Homo sapiens: one gene and its partners. The protein of the gene in region 2 purifies or fractionates together with the protein of the main gene of each other region. This does not show direct contact. Each region holds a gene or a part of one and is shown on either strand. Other genes may lie near its edges.

What was found.
Region 1: the proteins of PEX7 (region 2) and PDCL purify together in Homo sapiens (affinity purification with mass spectrometry; 4 studies listed by BioGRID and IntAct, with this or other methods). This does not show direct contact.
Region 3: the proteins of PEX7 (region 2) and PDCL3 purify together in Homo sapiens (affinity purification with mass spectrometry; 4 studies listed by BioGRID and IntAct, with this or other methods). This does not show direct contact.

Annotation. Positions count from the first base shown.
Region 1 is NC_000009.12:122,825,563-122,832,618, forward strand, and holds the start of PDCL (phosducin-like protein), read right to left. Parts: upstream 3,027-7,056; 5' UTR 2,909-3,026; intron 1,231-2,908; 5' UTR 1,226-1,230; coding exon 1,054-1,225; intron 1-1,053. UniProt on the Homo sapiens protein: Acts as a positive regulator of hedgehog signaling and regulates ciliary function.
Region 2 is NC_000006.12:136,825,581-136,832,606, reverse strand, and holds part of PEX7 (peroxisomal biogenesis factor 7), read right to left. Parts: intron 6,289-7,026; coding exon 6,138-6,288; intron 1-6,137. UniProt on the Homo sapiens protein: Receptor required for the peroxisomal import of proteins containing a C-terminal PTS2-type peroxisomal targeting signal. Specifically binds to cargo proteins containing a PTS2 peroxisomal targeting signal in the cytosol.
Region 3 is NC_000002.12:100,565,993-100,573,018, reverse strand, and holds part of PDCL3 (phosducin-like protein 3), read right to left. Parts: intron 6,517-7,026; coding exon 6,390-6,516; intron 4,089-6,389; coding exon 3,998-4,088; intron 3,442-3,997; coding exon 3,298-3,441; intron 1,430-3,297; coding exon 1,221-1,429; intron 1-1,220. UniProt on the Homo sapiens protein: Acts as a chaperone for the angiogenic VEGF receptor KDR/VEGFR2, increasing its abundance by inhibiting its ubiquitination and degradation.

The DNA.
Region 1 (7,056 bases), on a different chromosome or scaffold from region 2:
AAGTACATAAAAATAAAATTTTTCATCCAGGAAAAGAACAAAAGAATATAAAGTCAAAAGACAACAACAAACTGAAAGAAATATTTACCACTCATATCACAGATTAATTTCCTTTATAGCTCCCCAAGAAGAAAAAAAACACCTAATTTTTTAAATGAGCAAAGGATATAAAAATCTCTCTTAAAATTATGAAAAGAAGTTTAGGTTCCCTCTTAAAAATAAATATGGGCCCAGTGCATTGGTTCATGCCTATGGGACGCTGAGGCAGATGATCGCTTGAGGCCAGCAGTGTGAGGCCAGCCTGGGCAACAAAGTGAGACCCCATCTCTACAAAAAATAAAGAAATAAATTAGCTGGGCACGGTGGCAAGCGCCTGTGGTCCCAGCTACACGTGGTCCCAGCTTTTTAAGAGAGGAACCTCATGGAAGCTGAGGCAGAAGGATCATTTGAGCTCAGGAAGTTGAGGCTGCAGTGAGCCATTATGGCACCAAGGCACTCCAGCCTGAGCAACAAGGTGAGAACTTGTCTTAAAAAACAAAAAAACAAAACAAAACAAAAAAAAGGTGGTGGGGGCGGAAATAAACCTACAATGAATTACTACAATAGCAAAGATCAAGGAGTTTCATAACACAGTAGGAGGTCAAGTGTACGGAGAAACACAGATTGCTGATTAAACTATAAACTACTGCCACCTCAACTCAACTGACAGCAATTTGACAATATTAAAATGTACAAGTGTAAATATGCCATTTTTAGGAATTTGCACTACCCATATACTCATACTTGTGATTTATGAGATATCAAACTGTTAATACGAGATGCAGGATTCAAATCCAGGCCAGTCTGTGTTCATTACCATGCTGCTATGCACATACATTTGTATTGTGCACTAAAAGGCTAGAAGCACACATAATGAAAAGACTAGGTTACCTCTGAAAGTGGGACCAGAGTTAAAAGTGATCAGGAGAATTAATTTATTAATATGTATTTAATTAATATGTATTTAATGTACATTTTTTAAGCCTGTTCCCAGAGCCCAGGGTTTCTCAGTACCTGTGTTAACTGAGATGCCTTCGCCTGCCAGCTCAGCCTCTGCAGGCACAGAACTGCTGGCTGGGGCACATCTGCCTCGGTCCTTGTCCTCGTGGTCACTGTCCTCATCCTCACTGCTGCTATAGTAGTACTGCAGTTTCTCCCCCAGCAACTTATCATCAAGGGTGGTCATGGTGTCTGGAAAAAGAAAGCATATCAGGTTCTTTGCTGATTTGAGCCAGACAGACATGAATCTGAAGCATAGGGGGCTCGCCTGTGCTGAGATCCTACAATTTCCAGGACACTAAAGTGATTATTTTCATAACCAAAATCTTAACAAATCCCTACCGTTACCCTGTGTGTTAGGGCTTATCACACTCTTTAACAGAAGGTAAAACTGAAGCTCAGATAAAGGAAGAGTCTTCACCAAGCTTAACAGCGAATGACGGAGCTGGGACCAGACCCCAGGGATTCCTGACTCCAAGAGCCTGAGGTATAAATTACTCTAGTCTGAGTTAAGTGTACAAGCCACCTGCACTGGCTTGGAGGAATCTACTGACTAGTGGTTTTATCTGTGCTTTTAGTTTTCCCACCAGCTAAGACTGCTGCCTAATTGAAAAATTGTTTAAGTATCCTCAGGAAAAACCCCAAAAAGAGGCATCAAGAGTACAATGCTGAGTCACTATTTGTCTAGGCAATCACTCTCTGTCACCAGCCTTCAACTTCCCAGACAACACCCTGAGGGCTTGGATGGATGGTCTCTGAAACGCTACCTATTCTGACAGTTTAAAAGAAGGGCCCATACAAAGATTTTAATAACTCCCAAGGGTTTAAAGGACTATGATGGCCGGGCTCGCGCAGGTAATCCCAGCACTTAGGGAGGCCGAGGAGGGAGGATCACTTGAGACCAGGTATTCGAGACCAGCCTGGCTAACATGGCGAAACTCTTGTCTCTACTAGTAAAAGCAAACAAACAAACAAACAAAAATTAGCCAGGTGTGGTGGCGGGTGTCTGTTTTCCCAGCTACTCAGGAGGCTGAGGCACGAGAATCTCTTGAATCCGGGAGGCGGAGGTTGCAGTGAGCCAAGATCACGCCACTGCACTCCAGCCTGGGAGACAGAGCGAGACTCTGTTTCAAAAAAAAATAAAAACTAAAAATATAAAGGACCAGGCTTCTGCATCAGAAGTAGCCAAGGGCATTCTGATGAAAAGATGCAGCTTAGCCCCCAGAGGCCTGCTTGAGAATTCAGCAGGAATGCGGCTGCCTTAAAGACTTATCACCGGGCCTATCATACTCCATTTACAAAGTGACTCTCTCCCACCGGGCAAGGAGTTCTTGAACGTAGGGACCTCTAGTCACTACCTCTATCCCCAAAGCCCAGCACAATGCCGCTGCACAATTTGCTAAACTCGCAGCCTGGGTCAACGGGAGAATCGGAGGACTCCAGCAGTCAGATGCAAAGGAGACAGGGATCATGGAGAGACAGGTGGAGGTGCCAAGAAGGAACAAAACCAAACTTAAGGCCCAGGAATGGGCCAAGCGGGGGACACAGCAGCGGCGGAGGGGAGGGAAGGAGTTGCGCTCCTAAAGGAGGGACCGCTGCGGGGAGGAGACGAGGGCGGGCCCCCTGGAGACGCGAGCAGAGGAGGCGGGGCCCCCGGACGGGAAGCAGAGGGGTGTGTGGAGCTTTTGGGGGAAGGCTGGAAGGGCCCGGGGGAGGTGGGGCCAGAGGAGGAAAGGGGACGAGGAAGACGCGGAGAACTTGGGGGTCGAGACAGAGCGAAGAAGGGGCAGTTTTACCCAAGCTCGCCAACCCCACTCCCTCCCGTAGTCCGCAGCTGCTGCCGCTTCCCGGTGGACCCCAATGCAGTTACCTGCCCTAGCTCGCTCCGGATCCCTTTGGGCCAGCAGCTCCGGGCGCCGGAAGGAATGGAGCACTTTCTTAAGAGGAAGAGCAGTGGGTCAGCGCCCTGAGCGCTAAAGAGAAAAGCCGCCGAAGCCCGACAGCGCGGACCAATGAGGCGGCCTTCCTGCGTCGTGGCGGACGCGCATTGTCCAATCAGAAGCCGCTACTCCCAGCTGAGGGGCAGGGGAGAAGCTACGGGTCCTACCTTGGAACAAAACACCTCGACAACAACGCTCTCCTAATTGCTTTGTTTTGGTTTTAATCTGCACAACAAAAAAGTGAATTGTATGACCCAGCGTCAAGCAATAAGAAAAATGTATTCACAGGCCGGGCGCGGTGGCTCACGCCTGTAATGCCAGCACTTTAGGAGGCCGAGGCGGGCGGATCACTTAAGGTCATGAGTTCAAGACCAGCCTGGCCAACACGTTGAAAACCCGTCTCTACTAAAAATACAGAAATTAGCCGGGCCTGGTGGCCGACGCCTGTAATCCAAGCTACTCGGGAGGCTGAGGCAGGAGAATCGCTTAAACCCAGGAGGCAGAAGTTGAAGTGGGCCGAGATCGCGCCACTGCACCCCAGCCTGGGCGACAGAGCGAGACTGTCTCAAAAAAAAAGAAAGAAAGAAAAGAAAAATGTATTCACTTCCCTTCGAAGTTTCCGAAGCCATTCAAAGTGTGTTTTTTATTGGTTCTTCATCGCATCACGTCTATTAGACGGAAAAGTGACTCAGAGACGTTCGGTAATTTGCCCGAGAGCACAAATCCCTCAAGTACAGGGCATAGATTAAAATATATATATATATTTTTTTGACGGAGTTTCGCTCTTCTTGCCCAGGCTGGAGTGCAGTGACGCGATCTCGGCTCACTGCAACCTCCGCCTCCCGGGTTCAAGAGATTCTCCTGCCTCAGCCTCCAGAGTAGCTGGGATTACAGGCGTCCGCCAGCAGACCCGGCTAATTTTTTCTATTTTTAGTAGAGACGGGGTTTCACCATTTTAAAGAAGCGGCAGCCAGGAGTGGTGGCGCGCGCCTGTAGTCCCAGCTACGCAGGAGGCTGAGGCGGGAGGATCGCTCAGCCCAGGACTTGGAGGCCAGCCTGGGTGACAGAGCAGGAATGTAATGTGAAATCCGGAATTGGCTCCTGGTATAGAAAAAGGACATGGGGCCGGGTGCGGTGGTTCACTCCTGTAATCCCAGCACTTTGGGAGGCCGAGGCGGGCAGATCACCTGAGGTCAGGAGTTCGAGACCAGCCTGGCCAACATGGCGAAACCCCGTCTTTACTAAAAATACAAAAATTAGCCGGGCATGGTGGTGCACACTTGTAATCCCAGCTACTCGGAGGCTGAGGCAGGAGAATCGCTTGAACCCGGGAGGCGGAGGTTGCAGACAGCTGAGATCGCACCACTGCACTCCAGCTTGGGGGTCAAGACTGAGACTCCGTCTCAAAAAAGAAAAATAAAAAGGACATGAATGGGACAACTGACGAAATTTGAATAAGGCCTATTAATTCATATTAGTAGTATTGTATCAATAGTTTTAATAATTATACTATGTAAGATGTGAACTTTTGGAGATTCTATTAGATGAAGAATCTAGGGAAGCACTATCCTATTTTTGCAACTTTGTTTTCTTCTTCCAGGGTAAAGCCATACTATGATATTTTGCAACTTTTTTTTCTTTTTCCTCAGGCATACTTTGTCGTCTGTTTTTGCAACTTTTTTAAAACCTAAAATGATTTCAAATTCTGAGCCCTTGTTGAAGTATCCAATACACAACCGTGAAGTTGCTCATAGAAAGCTTTGGGTAAATTGAATCATAGAAAATATTCTAGAAAGATACACTGTTTAAAATAGGGCTCTTAATTTGGGGTAGGGGATCTTAATTTGTGGTTCTAGGACCACCTGAAATTGTCTGCAAATTTCTGTACCTGCCTGTTTTCAGAGAGGCTGTTTGCTGAGGCCCTCAGAGGAGTCAAAAAATACCACACACAAACACACACCCATTCAAGAATACTGTATTAATAAGTCCGTTTTCATACTGCTGTAAATAAATAACCCAGTGTCAGGCAGTTCATACTGCTATAAAGAACTGCCCGACACTGGTTTATTTATTTATTTATTTATTTAAGACGGAGTCTTACTCTGTTGCCAAGGCTGGAGTGCAGTGGCGCAATTCTCGGCTCACTGCAATCTCCGCCTCCCAGGTTACAGGCTCCCGCCACCACGCCCGGCTAATTTTTGTATTTTTTAGTAGAGACGGGGTTTCACCGTGTTAGCCAGGATGGTCTCGATCTCCTGACCTCGTGATACACCCGCCTCGGCCTCCCAAAGTGCTGGGATTACAGGCGTGAGCCACCGCGCCCGGCCATATTCAACCTTTTTTAAAAAAAGTAGAAATGGGGTCTTGCTATGTTGCCCACGTTGGTCTCAAATTCAGACCTTTTAATATATTCAGTCTCCTGGTTGTATAGATATAGTGATGTCTTTGTTGGGAATGTAGCTTGCATCTGTCAGGAATATGTGTACATGAGTTAGCTATCTAATAATATCCAACAGAACCACTCATTTTTCCTGTTAGAAATGTGGAATGGGCCAGGCATGGTGGCTCACACCTGTAATCCCAGCACTTTGGGAGGCCGAGGTGGGCAGATCACGAGGTCAAGAGATCAAGACCATCCTGGCCAATATGGTGAAACCCCGTCTCTACTAAAAATACAAAAATTAGCTGGGCATGGTGGCGCACGCCTGTAGTCTCAGCTACTGGGGAGGCTAAGGCAGGAGAATCGCTTGAACCCAGGAGGTGGAGGTTGCAGTGAGCTGAGATTATGCCACTGTACTCCAGCCTGGCAACAGAGTGAGACTCCGTCTCAAAAAAAAAAAAAAGAAATGTGGAATGATGTGGATAATGAAGTTTCTGTTTAATGAGCATACTGTATGTAATTTATAGTTTTAAAGGTATTTTACCGCTACTGTAAGGTTTTTGTTGGGCTGTTTATCAGTAGAGTATATTAAAGGTATTCCCTAGTGGGGAAAACAACCCATGAGCTGTCTTGTGACGGCTAAAGCATTTATCTTTAAGCAAGGGAAACCTTGATCCAACCAGATTTATAGGCTATTTTTAAAAATATTTAAAATTTTGAAGTAACTGAATGAAATTCATATATAAGTGATTAAATAGGCCGGGCACGATGGCTTATGCCTGTAATCCCACCATTTTGGGAGGCTGAGGCAGGCAGATCATTTTAGGCCAGGAGTTCAAGACCAGCCTGGCCGACATGGTGAAACCCCATCTCTACTAAAGATACAAAAATTAGCCGGGCTGAGTGGAGCATGCCTACTGTAATCCCAGCTACTTGGGAGGCTGAGGCAGGAGAATCACCTGAACCCGGTAGAAGGAGGTTGCAGTGAGCTGAGATCATGCCACTGCACTCCAGCCTGGGAGACAGAATGAGACTCCATCTCCACAAAAAAATAAATAAATAAATAGCTAGATAAATAAATAAAATAAATGATTAAATTCCTTGAAGCATGAGTTCCAAGACTTGATCCACTCTTACAGTTTTTCCAAATCATAACAGAGGCAAAACAAGATTTGGTCTTACAATGAGTTTCTCATGTTAGATTTTTTCTACCAATATTTTTGTAAATTTAGAACAAATTTGTCCTGTTACTTTATTTTTTCTATAAGAATTAAAGGTCCAGAGATGATTTTGAATGACACCAAACCATATGAGGACTGTTTGAGATAAACAGCTTGCCCATCTGTCTTGTCTTTTCTTTCTTTTTCTTCATTTCCTGAATTCTTTTATTTTTCTTTTCCTTCCCTTCCTTTCTCTTCCCTTGTGCCTTTTCTGCTCCCTCTCCTTTTGTCCTTTCCCCTCCCTTGTTTCTCTTTCTTTCTCTCTCACCTTAACTTTCCTTCTCTGGTGGTGGTGGTGGTGTGTGTATGGCAGGGTGTTCCATCTGTTGCAACAGAATGTCTTTCTTATTTAAAAATCAGATTAAACAACCTTTTTTTTTTCTTTTTTGAGACAGAGTCTCGCTCTGTCACCCAGGCTGGAGTGTAGTGGTGCGATCTCGGCTCACTGCAACCTCCGCCTCACAGTTTCAAACAATTC
Region 2 (7,026 bases):
TATATTTAAAAGGGAAGCACAGCATAAAAGTTCAGAAAATTTGCAACCTAACCATGAGGTAGAAAAGAAAAACCTATTTCTTGGGGGGAAATTCAAACCTGCTGCAGAAATTTGTATAAGTAACAAGGAGCCAAATATTAATAGCCAAAACAATGGGAAAAATGTATCCAAGGCATGTCAGAGACATTTGCAGAAGCCCCTCCCATCACAGGCCCAGCGGCCTAGGAGGGAAAAATGGTTTTGTGGGCCTGAGTGGCCCTGCTGCTCTGTGCAGCCTCAAGACATGGTGCCCTGCATCCAGCTGCTCTAGCTCCAGCCATGGCTAAAAGGAGCCAAGGTACAGCTCAAGCCATTGCTTCTGAGGGTGCAAGCCCTAAACCTTGGCAGCTTCCATGTGGTGTTGGGTCTGTGGGTACACAGAAGACAAGAAGAGTTTAGAAGACAAGAGTTTAACCTCCACCTAAATTTCAGAGGATGTATGGAAACACCTGAATGTCCAGGCAGAAGTCTGCTGCAAGGGAGGAGCCCTCATGGAGAACCTTTGCTAGGGCAGTACAGAAGGAAAATGTGGGGTTGAAGGCCCCACACAGTCCCCACTGGGGCACTGCCTACTGGAGTTGTGAGGAGAGAGCCACTGTCCCCCAGGCCCCAGAAAGGTAGATTCACTGACAGCTTGTATTGTACAGCTGGAAAAGCCACAGGCACTCAATGCCAGCCAGTGAAAGCAGCCATAAGGACTGCACCTTTCAGAGCTACAAGGGTAGAGCTGCCCAAGGCCATGGGAGCCTACCCCTTGGATGTGAGATATGGAGTCAAAGGAGATCATTTCAGAGCTTTAAGATTTAGTAACTGCACTGCTGGGTTTCAGACTTGCATGGGGCCTGTGGCCCCTTTGTTTTGGCCAATTTCTCCCATTTGAAACATTTAGCTAATGCCTATAGCCCTACTGTATCTTAGAAGTAACTAACTTGTTTTTTATTTTATAGGCTCATAGGCAAAAGGGACTTGCCTTGTCTCAGATGAGACTTTGGACTTGGACTTTTGGGTTAATGCTGGAATAAGTTAAGACTTTGGGGGACTGTTGGAAAGTCATGATTGGTTTTGAAATGTGAAAAAGACATGAAATTTGGGAGGCGCCAGGAGTGGAATGATATGGTTTGGCTTTATATCCCCACCCAAATCTCATCTTGAATTGTAATCCCCATGTGTCCAGGGAGGAACCCGGTAGGAAGTGATCGGATCATGGGGGCAGTTTCCCCCATGCTGTTCTTGTGATAGTGAGGGAGTTCTCAAAAGATCTGATGGCTTTAAAAGTGGCAGTTTCCCCTGCTTTCTCTCTCTCTCTTTCTCTCTCTCCTGCTGCCTTGTGAAGAAGGTTATCTACTTCCCCTTCACCTTCTGCCATAATTTTAAGTTTCCTGAGGCCTCCCCAGTCATGTGGAACTGTGAGTCAATTAAACCTCTTTCCTTTATAAATTACCCACTCTCAGGTATTTCTTTATAACAATGTGAAAACAGACTAATACAATACCTATCATTATTGACTTCTCAGCTTCTATCATTATCAAAAAGTAAATAATTGATTCATTTTTTAAAGTAAACAAGATTTTAACTCTTGAAATGTATAAGCAAATACATTTCCTCCATAACAGAATACTAATAGTTGTATACTTAGGTCAAAAATAAGTTTTTATAAGCAATGCTCAAAAACCTCAATGGATCAAATATGTTATAAAAATTCAGCAAATTGATAAACCTTGTTATTTGACTATGAGAACAAATTTTAACTCATTTTTAAATTGTGATAAGCCAACTCATTAGTCTGAAAATTAGAAATTAATATATTACATTGATTTATGTCATCTTTAAAGTCACTTTAACTCACTCTCAGTAGCACAGTGTTTTAAGTCAGAAAGCAGTGAAATAAAATTGTCAATTCACTCTTATTTTTCTATTCTCACTGAACTTTTAAAAATTTTTATTATATATTCAGCAGCATTAGAATAAGCAAAGCCAAAGGCATTTTATGGGACTCAAAAGACATAATGACCTCTGCAGACACCAGTTAAACAATAGACAGAAGAATTTGATTCCTACTTCGATGCTAGGTTTAGCAACCATTCACACAGATAATGTCCATGTTTTTCTTTCTTTTCATTTCACCAAGACCTTCACTCCTCAAAGCCTAAAATATATCTAAATCTTGGATTTCTCTTTTTTGCTTCATCTGACAACTTGAAAATTGACTGTTGGACACATAGCCATCAAGTGGTAAAGTGGGTAACTGGAAAAGTTCTAACTTGTTTTACATTTTTCAAACCCTATTATAATAAGAGCAAATAATAATACTAGCTCATATTTATTCAATGCTGGTCTGTGATACAGACTACTAATAAACTTAGTTTGCAAATAAAAACACTCAAGTTTAGGAAAAATATGTGACATACGCAAGGTCTCACAACAGGTAACTTACAAAGCTGGGATTCAAATCCAAGATTGACTAAAACCATGCTATACGTCTTTATTATATACTCTCTTCCACAGAAGAAAATGACCCATTAGTTGCTCTTCTATTTCACAACACAGCTTCCCTGAACATACTGGTGGAAAAAAAAAAAACAGAAATTGGCTATGTTCATTATCAACTTTTTTTTTTAATAACTTTCTTTTAAGACAGGGTCTCACTCTGTTGTCCAGGCTGGAGTGCAATGGCACGAACTCAGCTCACTGCAACCTCCACCTCCCATGCTCAAATGATTCTTGTGCCTCAGCCACCAAATAGCTGGGACTACAGGTGTGCACCACCACACCCAGCTAATTTTTTTATTTTTAGTAGAGGCGGGGTTTTCGCCATGTTGGCCAGGCTGGTCCCAAACTCCTGGCCTTCAGTGATCTGCCCACCTCGACCTTCCAAAGTGTTAGGATTACAGGCATGACTCACTGCACTCAGCCTCATTTATTAATTTATTCAACAAATATTTACTAGCTCCTTAAAACTCTCATTTGAGCTTAAATCCTTTTAAGTATTTTTGAGTATCTGGCATATGCAATGGACTGAATATATCCCCACAAAACCCACATGTTGAAATCTTAACCCCCCAGTGTAATGGTTTTAGGACGTAGGGCCTCTGGGGGGTAATTAGGTCATGAATGTAGAGCCCTCATGAATGGGATTAGTGCTCTTATAAAAGGGATTTCCCAAACCTCTCTCATTCTCTTTCCACCACCTGCAGATACAATGAAAAGACAGCAGTAGTCTTTGACCTAAAAGAGGGCCCTCATCAGAACCCAAACATGTGGGCACCCTGACCTTGGACTTCCAACCTCCAGAATAGTAAGAAATAAATTTCTGTTCTTTATAAGGCACCCAGTCTATAATACTTTGTTACAGCAGCCTGAACAGACTGAGGCAGAAACTGGTGCCAAGAATTAGGGGTGCTGCTGTAACAAATACCTAAAAAGGTTATCTTCATTTATTTTTCACATAACCAAGCAAAATATGTGAAACAGTAAACTCTGACTGTTGAAGCCATTTAATTGTTTTCTATTACACTAACATTCAAGGCATCCTGATACAAACGCTTACCAAAAAGTGCATTTGAAAAGAAAACGAGGAAGTCTAACTAGAATAGCAGTACGCAAAACAAATTTAAAAAATTAAAAAACAGAAGTGTGTCTTCGGTTCAAGAAATCAGCTGCAAAATCACAGAATGATGTAAAACTGGTTTAATAGCAGTTCAAATAACAAAAGAGGTAAGTGTGTTACTAGCAGACTCAAAGTAACCTAACACTAAGACATGGCTGAGAACAATGTATAGCCACTTTAGGTAATATTATTAGAGCTAGGGGCTCAAGACTATGGTGGTAAAATCTTATAAAGCTTAGCCCTTCATCACATTTCTGGAATAAATTAGGTATATGTTGAAAGGGGAGTTGAAAAACAGGATTATCAAAGGAGGCTATCAGAAGGATGAAAGACGTACAGATCATGTCATCTGAGGACAGGACAATGAAATGACAAGTGCACAGTCTGGAAGAGAGCACGATGGCTATTTTCAAGAGGTTTCCTGGACAAGAGGGGCTGGACCTGGTCTTGCCACTTCAGAGAAAGACACTAAAAGCAGCAGTTGGTTGCTATAGAAGGTAGAGTTGGGATTACAAGAAGCAGTTTCTTAATAATCAGAACAACCTAAAAGTCAAATAAGTTATCTCAAGAGAAAGTGAAATTTACTTTCACTGACAGGAAGTAAAGACTGAGTGAGCATCCATCCAGGATATCCTAGAACAGTATTTTCCAGAGAGTAGTTACACCAGAGATTATTTTAACTGGTACATACATTTATTTTATTCATTACTTACTTATCTCAATGTACACTAAAAACAAATAAATGTACATACTAAAGTAGCCATCAACCCCATTGTTTCATGAATATTACTGTTTTAGGATAAATGAAGCAACGACTTTACTTGATTGAAAGAAAAACATTAAGTCAATATATTGAATTTACCTTAACTAGCTATATTATTTTATGATGTCAGTTATCATCCTTGAATTTATATAGATAATAAAAGGCACCAAAGATTTAAGAAAAAGGAAAAAAAAAACTTCTGAAAAGAAAAATATTTTTTAAAAAAGAAAGAAGGAAAAGAAATACATTATAATACAAGTGGTATAAAAAGATGTCAAACATCACAAAAACTAGCCTGGGCAACATAGCGAAACTCCATCTCTACAAAAAAAAACAACAACAAAAAAACACACACACACAAAAATTGGCTGGGCACGGTGGCTCACGCCTATAATCCCAGCACTTTGGGAGGCCAAGGCAGGTGGATCATGTGAGCCCAGGAGTTCAAGACCAGCCTAGCCAACATGGTGAAACCCGTCTCTACTAAAAATACAAAAATTAGCAGGGCACGGTGGCGCACGTCTGTAATCCCAGCTACTCGGGTGGCTAAGACATGAGAATGGCTTGAGCCCATTCCAGAAGGTGGAGGTTGCAGTAAGCCAAGATTGCACCACTGCACTCTAGCCTGGGCAACAGAGTGAGACCCTGACACACACACACACACACACACACACACACACACACACACACACAAATTCACACAGGTTCCACAAAAGTATCTGAATTTTGGACATACTGTTCTGTAGAGATTCGTGCATTGATTATCCTGAAACTAAAATTTCTCCTTTACCAAAATTGTCTTAATATTCAGTAATTCCCTGAAAACATAGTAATTTACAACTACATTTATTCAAATAGCTATCATAATTAAAATAGAAACTAAAATTTTTCATTATTTCAGTAACAATCTTAGAAATCTTGATTGTCAATAGCTACAGCTATAAAACATCTGGACCCCTCACATAACTAATCTTTACCACAAAAGACTGATATTCTTGCATCTAATAAGCATTTATTGAGGGCCTTCTCGGGCCAGGCACTGTGGTGGACAAAAATTTGAAAGTAGATTAGCAAGTTTTCATCTGAAGGATGTACTGCTCCCTTAAGGAAAATCTTAAAACATTTAAGGTAAAAACACAAAAAGAGGATGTCTTTATGTTCACTGAAAATATACATGTATGTTAGTACAACTGAAGCCCAAACTATTTTCTATGCTATACATACACACACACAAAATCTAGACACATGAACCAGATTTAGATATAAAATCCCTTCAGTAAGTTCTGCCTCATACTCAGTATTTTATGCTCTTGCTCCAATATACTCTGAAACACCTCGGGAATCTCACTGAAGCCCCAAAGGCAATCTTGTGATGTCTATGTGAAAAGTCCACCTACCTCTACCTTAAGGCACCATGTGGCAAGCACATTCTTAGAGCACAAAGAAAGTGATGGGCCTCTCAGGAGGAAATGGTGCCAGAGTACACTGCTGGAGGTGTTCTTTCTGCCTAATGAGAAGACTGACCTTTTCTTTTCTTTCCCCACTCCTTAGGCCAAGAGGTACTTTATGTTTGAATAATCAAATAATAAGTGACATCTAGTATGTATAAGAAATGCTAACGTTTAAACTTGTCCCCTGAAGATATTTCTCCATGTGTCCATCCCCAAATGGATTTCAACCAAAGTCGAAGAAAGAAAAATAATCAGCCCAGAAAGATTTCCCTCCTACCTCCTGAGCGTGTTCTTTATAGACTTGCAGTGGCCCTGCAGCTTTGGCAGTGTCCCAGAGCTGCAGCGAGCCATCGCCACTACAGGTGATGAGGACATGTTCGTTGTTCTCACTCCAAGTCACATCAAACAAACCATCATTCCAGTCAAAGCTACACTAGGAAAAAACAAACAACAAAAAAATACAACACTTACATAGGCAGCTACACAACAAAAAAAATAACAATTATGGTTTTTTTTCTTTCAATTTATCACACATTTTAACACGTATATCTCATGTAATCTGCACAACTACGGGAGTTAAGTAGAGTAGGTACTTGACAAATATGGCAACAGATTCAGAAAGGTTAAAAAAAACAGTCCAGTGGAATGTAGTAGTCCAAAAATGTAATAGTACACAGTATACTGCTCCACATTTTTTTATGTTTAAATTTTATAATTTATGAGTGGACACTAAGAGACAGGCTTCAGATTTGTTTTGTTTTTTATTTGAGAGAAAGAGTCTTGTTCTGTCATCCAGGCTGGAGTGTAGTGGCCCAATCACAGCTCACTACAGCCTTGAACTGGACTCAAGCAATCCTCCCACCTCAGCTTCCCAAGTAGCTGGGACTACGGCCTAAAAATTAAAAAAATTTTTAGGCTGGGCCCAGTGGCTCACGCATATAATACCCACTTTGGGAGGCCAAGGTGGGCAGATCACCTGAGGTCAGGAGTTTGAGACCAGCCTGGCCAAAATGATGAAACCCCATCTCTACTAAAAAATACAAAAATTAGCCGGGTGTGGTGGCGGGCACCTATAATCCCAGCTACTTGGGAGGCTGAGGCAGGAGAATCACTTGAACCCAGGAGGGGAAGACTGCACTGAGCCAAGATGGCGCCACTGTACTCCA
Region 3 (7,026 bases), on a different chromosome or scaffold from region 2:
CAGCTACCTGAGACGCTGAGGCAGGAGAATTGCTTGAAACCAGAAGGTGGAGGTTCCAGTGAACCAAGATCGCACCACTGCACTCCAGCCTGAGCGAAAGAGCAAAACTCCATCTCAAAAAAACAAACAATCAAACAAAAACCACATCCTTCCGAGCTAACAGGCAGAATTAAATAAAATTTTAATTTAATTTAAAAGCTGGCCAGGCGCAGTGGCTCACGCCTGTAATCCCAGCACTTTGGGAGGCTGAGGCGGGTGGATCACCTGAGGTCAGGAGTTTGAGACCAGCCTGACCACATGGAGAAACCCTGTCTCTACTAAAAATACAAAAAAATTAGCCAGGCATGTTGGCACATGCCTGTAATCCCAGCTACTAGGGAGGCTGAGGCAGGAGAATCACTTGAACCTGGGGGGCAGAGGTTGCAGTGAGCCGAGATCACGTGATTGCACTCCAGCCTGGGCAAGAAGAGTGAAACTCTGTCTCAAAAAAAATAAATAAAAGCTACTAGCCGGGCGCAGTGGCTCACGTCTGTAATCCCAGCACTTTGGGAGGCTGAAGTGGGTAGATCACTTGAGGCCAGGAGTTTGAGACCAGCCTGGCCAACATGGTGAAACCCCGTCTCCACTAAAAATACAAAAATTAGCTGGGCGTGGTGGTAGGTGCCAGTAATCCCAGATACTTGGGAGGCAGAGGCAGGAGAATCACTTGAACCTGGGAGGCAGAAGTTGCAGTGAGGCAAGATCATACCATTGCACTCCAGCCTGGGTGACAGAGCAAGACTCTGTCTCAAAAAATAAATAACTAAGTAAATAAATGTAAAAGCTACTAACATACTCAACTGAGAATGTTTCTGTAGAAAAATACAAATACATACATTAACGTCTCCCTGTGTTCATGTGAATTAAAGCAAAAGTGAATGTTGTGATTTCAAGCTACAAAAACATCCAACTGTAGAGACAAAATATATTCCACACCAATATAAAAAATGTTTATATTTAAGTCTATCACGCCTTCCTTGAACTAAGAATCAGTAGAGCCCAGTTGTAACTGTTCCTGATTACGCAACTAAGATGAGAGATTAAACGTGCTTCCGTCCTCATACACAGGCAGAAGTGAACTTGACCCACCATCGTAACAGGAGTCCAGGAAATAGACACTCTCTCCAACAGAAATGCGCCTCCCATCTCTCACTGCCCCGCCTGTCTCCCAGAGCCCTTACCATCTCTTGTCAGGTTCATGCCGCCAAACACCAGAGGACCAATAAACTGAGCCTTGATATCTCCTTCCAGGTAAACAAATATCGTGGGCAGATTCCTATCAGGATAATTGGGTATGCAGGTTGTTGAAATGGCTTTGATAAATTTGACATCAGGAAACTTCCTGGCAAGTCCACTGAGGTGCTGATTTATCAGGGCACAGAGGGGAATTCTATAAAACACACATAGAAAACAGAAGCAATTATGATCCTACATTTATACAGAACAAAGCTCAATGACCCTTCTACCCTAAGTAAAACCTTGTAACAGTTTCACAAGTAATTCTGCTGCTAGCTAAGATGAATTAACATGTTTTTTTTGACATAGGGTCTTGTTTTCACCCAGGCTAAATGGAGTGAAGTGGTGTGATCTCGGCTCACAAGCAATGCTCCCACCTCAGCCCCCCAAGTAGCACTTTGGGAGGCCAAGGTGAGTGGATCATGAGGTCAGCAGTTCAAGACCAGCCTGGCCAAGATCATGAGGTCAGGAGTTCAAGACCAGCCTGGCCAAGATGGTGAAACCCCATCTCTACTAAAAATACAAAAATTAGCTGGGTGCAGTGGCAGGCGCCTGTAATCCCAGCTACTCGGGAGGTGTGATTACAGGCACACACCACCATGCCCAGCTGATTTTTTTTTTTTTTTTTTGTAAAGACAGGGTTTCACCACGTTGCCCAGGCTGCTCTTGAACTCTTGAGCTCGAGATCCGGCCGCAATGGCTTCCCAAAGTGCTGGGATTACAGGTATTACAGGTGTAAGCCACCATGCCCAGCTGAATTAACATTTCTTAAAAACTTCCTAATATGCTGAGGGAAAGTGAAGAACACAAATCCAAAGTCCAATTTATTTGACAAAACAAGTCAGAAAAACAGCTTCAATGTAAAAGATAAAATTGCTATACATTTCTTATAAGGTTGAATGAGAAAACGCTGAAGGTTTAGAAAGTATGAAATGTCAGAAAACGTTTTCTGCTTTAAAGAAATTCCTGGCCAGGTGCAGCGGCTAACGCCTGTAATCCCAGCACTTTGGGAGGCCAAGATGAGTGGATCATGAGGTCAGGAGTTCAAGACCAGCCTGGCCAAGATGGTGAAACCCCGTCTCTACTAAAAATACAAAAATCAGCTGAGTGCGGTGGCAGGCGCCTGTAATCCCAGCTACTCAGGAGCAGAGGCAGGAGAATCGCTTGAACCTGGGAGACGGAGGTTGCAGTGAGCCGAGATCATGCCACTGCACTCCAGCCTGGTCAATGGAGTGAGACTTTGTCTCAAACAAAAAAAAAAAAAAAAAAGAAATTCCTAAATAAGCACTGGACTCTACAGTTTAAGACAAGACTGGAGAGCTGAGAAAAATCAGAGGCCCTCAGTATCACACAGTTCAGGCAATTACTACTGTAAAGGCCAACCTTGCCATCTATGAGATAAATTCATTACATAGAATGTTGAAATGTCAGAGTTCCTGTAAAGGAATAAATAACTTAGGAATTCCTTTTCAAAAACAGAAAAGCATAGTCTTCATTGCTATACTTTAACAAAGGCATTCATATTAGTCACAAATTATTAACTTGAAAGTCTTAAGATAAAAAAATTAAGTAATAAGGTTTGGGCAAACCAGCAAAAAAAACACAAAAAACTCAGTACCAGAAAAATTTTTTCTGAGACAAAGTCTCGCTCTGTCGCCCAGGCTGGAGTGCAGTGGCGCAATCTCGGCTCACTGCAAGCTCCGCCTCCCGGGTTCATGCCATTCTCCCACCTCAGCCTCCCAAGTAGCTGGGACTATAGGCGCCCGCGACCACGCCCAGCTAATTTTGTTTTTGTATTTTTAGTAGAGACGGGGTTTCATCGTGTCAGCCAGGATGGTCTTGATCTCCTGACCTCATGATCCACCTGCCTCAGCCTCCCAAAGTGCTGGGATTACAGGTGTGAGCTACTGCGCCTGGCCCAGAAAAAAAAATTTCTTAACCCTCTGATATAGGTAACGCCTGAGATCCTGAAGACATAAATTCAAATTAACATTTGATAGATGGAGTGGAAGATCAGCTCACCCTTGTTTGTAAAGGTGCAAGATGACCCACAAGCCCTCGCCAGCTTTGGTAACTTCTTGAACATAATCCTTCCCTGAGATCTCCAAAACTTCTCCGAATTTATTCTTCAGTTTAGTTGCTTTCCACTCAGCCAGTCTCCGCCGTCTGCACAAAACAAGGAGAGAAACATCTTACGTCACAAACACGTGTACACACACATCGTCTAGAAGGCAATCCTTGTAAAAGCCCAGGTTTATTTATTGGTCTTATGGCAAAAATCTAAGATCAGTTTGCTAAAATTCACAATATTATTTAATTGCAGTCGCTCCTAGATGTTTCAGCTGAAAATTAATTTTTTGAAGGACACACATTTCATTTTATTTTTTGAGACAGAGTTTGGCTCTGTCACACAGGCTGGAGTGCAGTGGCACAGTCTCAGCTCACTGCAACCTCCACTTCCAGGGCTCCTGAGTAGCTGGAACTATAGCCGTTCACCACCACACCCAGCTAGTTTTTGTATTATTTATAGAGACGGGGTTTCACAGGCTGGTCTCAAACTTCTGAGCTCAAGCGATCTGCCTGCCTCAGCCTCCCAAAGTGTTGGGACTACAGGTATGAGTCACCATGCTCAGCCCACACATTTTATTGCCACGCCAAAAAAAAAACCAAAACAAAACAAACAACAACAAAAAAACAAACAGCCCCTCTGGGTGGCGCTTACCTGTACATTTCAATAGCACGTTCATCCTCCTCATTAAACTCGTCTTCATGATCCTCCAGCTCTTCCAAAGTCATATCTTCATATGTTTTCACTGAATTTGGTTACATTGGCAAAAAGCAAAAATTTAAAAAGATGAACGAACATGTATTTTTCTTTTTTCCCCTCTCTTTTCTCCTAAAGATATGCACACAACACCAGATCCTTAGCCTACCTAAACAAAAATTACTTAAGGCACCACACTACATTAGAAGCTGAGAGGCCAGGCATGGTGGCTCACACCTGTAATCCCAATTTATTGACTGACAACATTTTACCCAAGCCCTCAGATCCTCCTCCCCTCTCTTCTCCTATTCCGCCTCACCCTGCCCCGCTTATTTTCCTTTTTTTGGAGACAGAGTTTCACTCTTGTCATCCAGGCTGGAGTGCAATGGTGCGATCTTGACTCACTGAGAACCTCCGCCTCCCAGATTCAAGCAATTCTCCTGCCTCAGCCTCCTGAGTAGCTGGGATTACAGGCGTGTGCCACCACACCCAGCTAATTTTTGTATCATTAATAGAGACAGGGTTTCACCATGTTGGCCAAGCTGGTCTTGAACCTTCTGACCTCAAGTGATCTGCCCATCTCAAAGTGCTGGGATTACAGGAGTGAGCCAGCCGCCCTACTGTTGAACCCTTTGCTGATTAAAATTCCCCAGGCTCAAACCTTTGACTACTTTTCTTCTTTATCCACACCCACTCCCTCGGTGATTGCATCTAATCTCATGGCTTTCAGTGCTATCAATATGCTGACAACTCCCAAAGTATAGGCCTCCAGCCCAGACTTCTCTAATGTAGAGAAAAACATACCCAAGGGCCCTCTTAATGTGGCTATTTGTCTAATAGGGATCTCCAAGTTAATGCATCCCTTGGCTGGGTGCAGTGGCTCACGCCTATAATCCCAGCTCTTTGGGAGGCTGAGGTGGGCGGATCACTAGAGGTCAGGAGTTTGAGACCAGCCTGGCCAACATGGTGAAACCTCATCGCTACAAAAAATTACCTAGGCGTGGTGGCACATGTCTGTAATCCCAGCTACTCGGGAGGCTGACGCAGGAGAATCGCTTGAACCTGGGAGGCGGAGGTTGCAGTGAGCCAAGATTGCGCCACTGCAGTCCAGCCTGGGTAAGAGAGCGAGACTCCATCTCAAAAAAAAAACAAAAAAGAGAAAATGTCACTCTTCTGTTTAAACATCCAAAAGCTTCCTGCCTCATTAGGTGTAAAGGCCAAGGTCCTTACTAGAAGCTTCTGGGTCTGCTGAGGCTGCTCTGAACTCTCTCCCCCAGCGCCTCCAGCTCCTCAGGGATTCCCAGCCATGCCAGGGCCCATATTTCACTCGCTCACGTCACCCCCTTCAGGAATACCCAGATGTCTTCTTCACCTCCTTCAGGTCTCAACAACTCCCTCAGGTCTATTCAAATGTGTTCTTCAGCTCCTTCAGGTCTTTACCCAAATGCCAGCTTCACCTCCTTCAGGTCCATGCAAATGTCATCTCAGTGAGGCCCTCTCTGAGCCTGCTTCTCCTCCAACCCTTTCTAGTCCCTTTTACTGCCTTATTTTCTTTATTGTTTATTGTCTGTCTCCCCCACTTGAATGTTGGTTCTCTGAGGGCAGAGAATTGTCTCTGGCTTATGCATAGCTAAATCCCCAACCCCAGAAAAGCACCTGACAATGATAATCATGCAGTAAGCACTCGCTGGATACTTTCTAATAAATCCTTCTCTAAATTAGCTCTAATGTGTCAACAGAGGACAAAAGTACTAGTCCCTGGGACCAGTGCTTCTCAAACTATGACACGCATCAGAATCCTTTAAGGCACTTGTTTAAAATGCAGATTCCTGGGCCTCATTCCAGAGACTGCTTCAGTAAACACTAGGTGGGTGGGGTTACCAGCACTCCAAGGGACTCCAATTCAGACAGTACAACTGCCTTTGAGAAAACCCCCCTCAGACTCCCACACATTGCAAACATCTTATGCCTCCCCAAATGAAGCAATTTTTAGTTAATATCCTCAATGAAACCACAGAAAATAAAGTATATGCTCAGGAAAATACAAGTACTAAAAACCTTGAACAAATTTCCATGACATTATCAAAGGGAATCACAGACCAGAAAGCAGAAAGAAGTATTTTCTTCAGTGCTCATGTGACATGGACAAGGACTTGTGGGACATATCTGAAGTCCCCTAAGTCTATGGCTCAGGAAGGTGAAGGTGAGAGACGCCCTGTGTTTTGTCTGAGGTCCCACAGACACAGAGTGTCCATGCTGGCACTCCAACCTGTCTCCTGGCAGGGCAGTCAGAGGCTTAGGGAGCCATCTCCTAACCCAGACAGGTGCAGAGGAAAGCGAGTGAACTCACCCACTGACTGCTGGAGGATGCGCTGCTCCTCTTCTGCCTCCTCTTCCAATTCTTTCAGACTTTCCTTGGGGGGTAAGATACCCTTTTTGCGTAAGATGTCATTCCATTCAGTGTCTGCGTTGGGGTCCTAGAAGAGCGGGACCAAGGTTACCATGAGTGCTAAGTCTAGTATGTAGGGTGCCACGTTGGGCAAGGGGCCAAATGGGAAAAGTGACAGGAAGGGAGGAATGCACACCAGTCTGTGAACTATTTCTGAGAAAGTGTCAAAAGATCCATAGCCCCCGTTTTGTTTTTCCTGTCTACCCCTCCCTGAATGGAGGAGCTATTCTTGGGGTAAAAATTAGGATAGGGAGTGCAGATCAGTATCAATACGGATACCAAGGCTCTGACTTGGCATGTGTTCAATATTTTTAATAATGACTGAGAGTGCCGGGCACAGTGGCTCACGCCTGTAATCCCAGCACTTTGGGAGGCTGAGGCAGGCGGATCACGAGGTCAGGAGATAGAGACCATCCTGACTAACACGGTGAAACCCCGTCTCTACTGAAAATACAAAAAATTAGCCGAGCGTGGTGGCGGGCACCTGTAGTCCCAGCTACTTGGGAGGCTGAGGCAGGAGAATGGCATAAACCCGGGA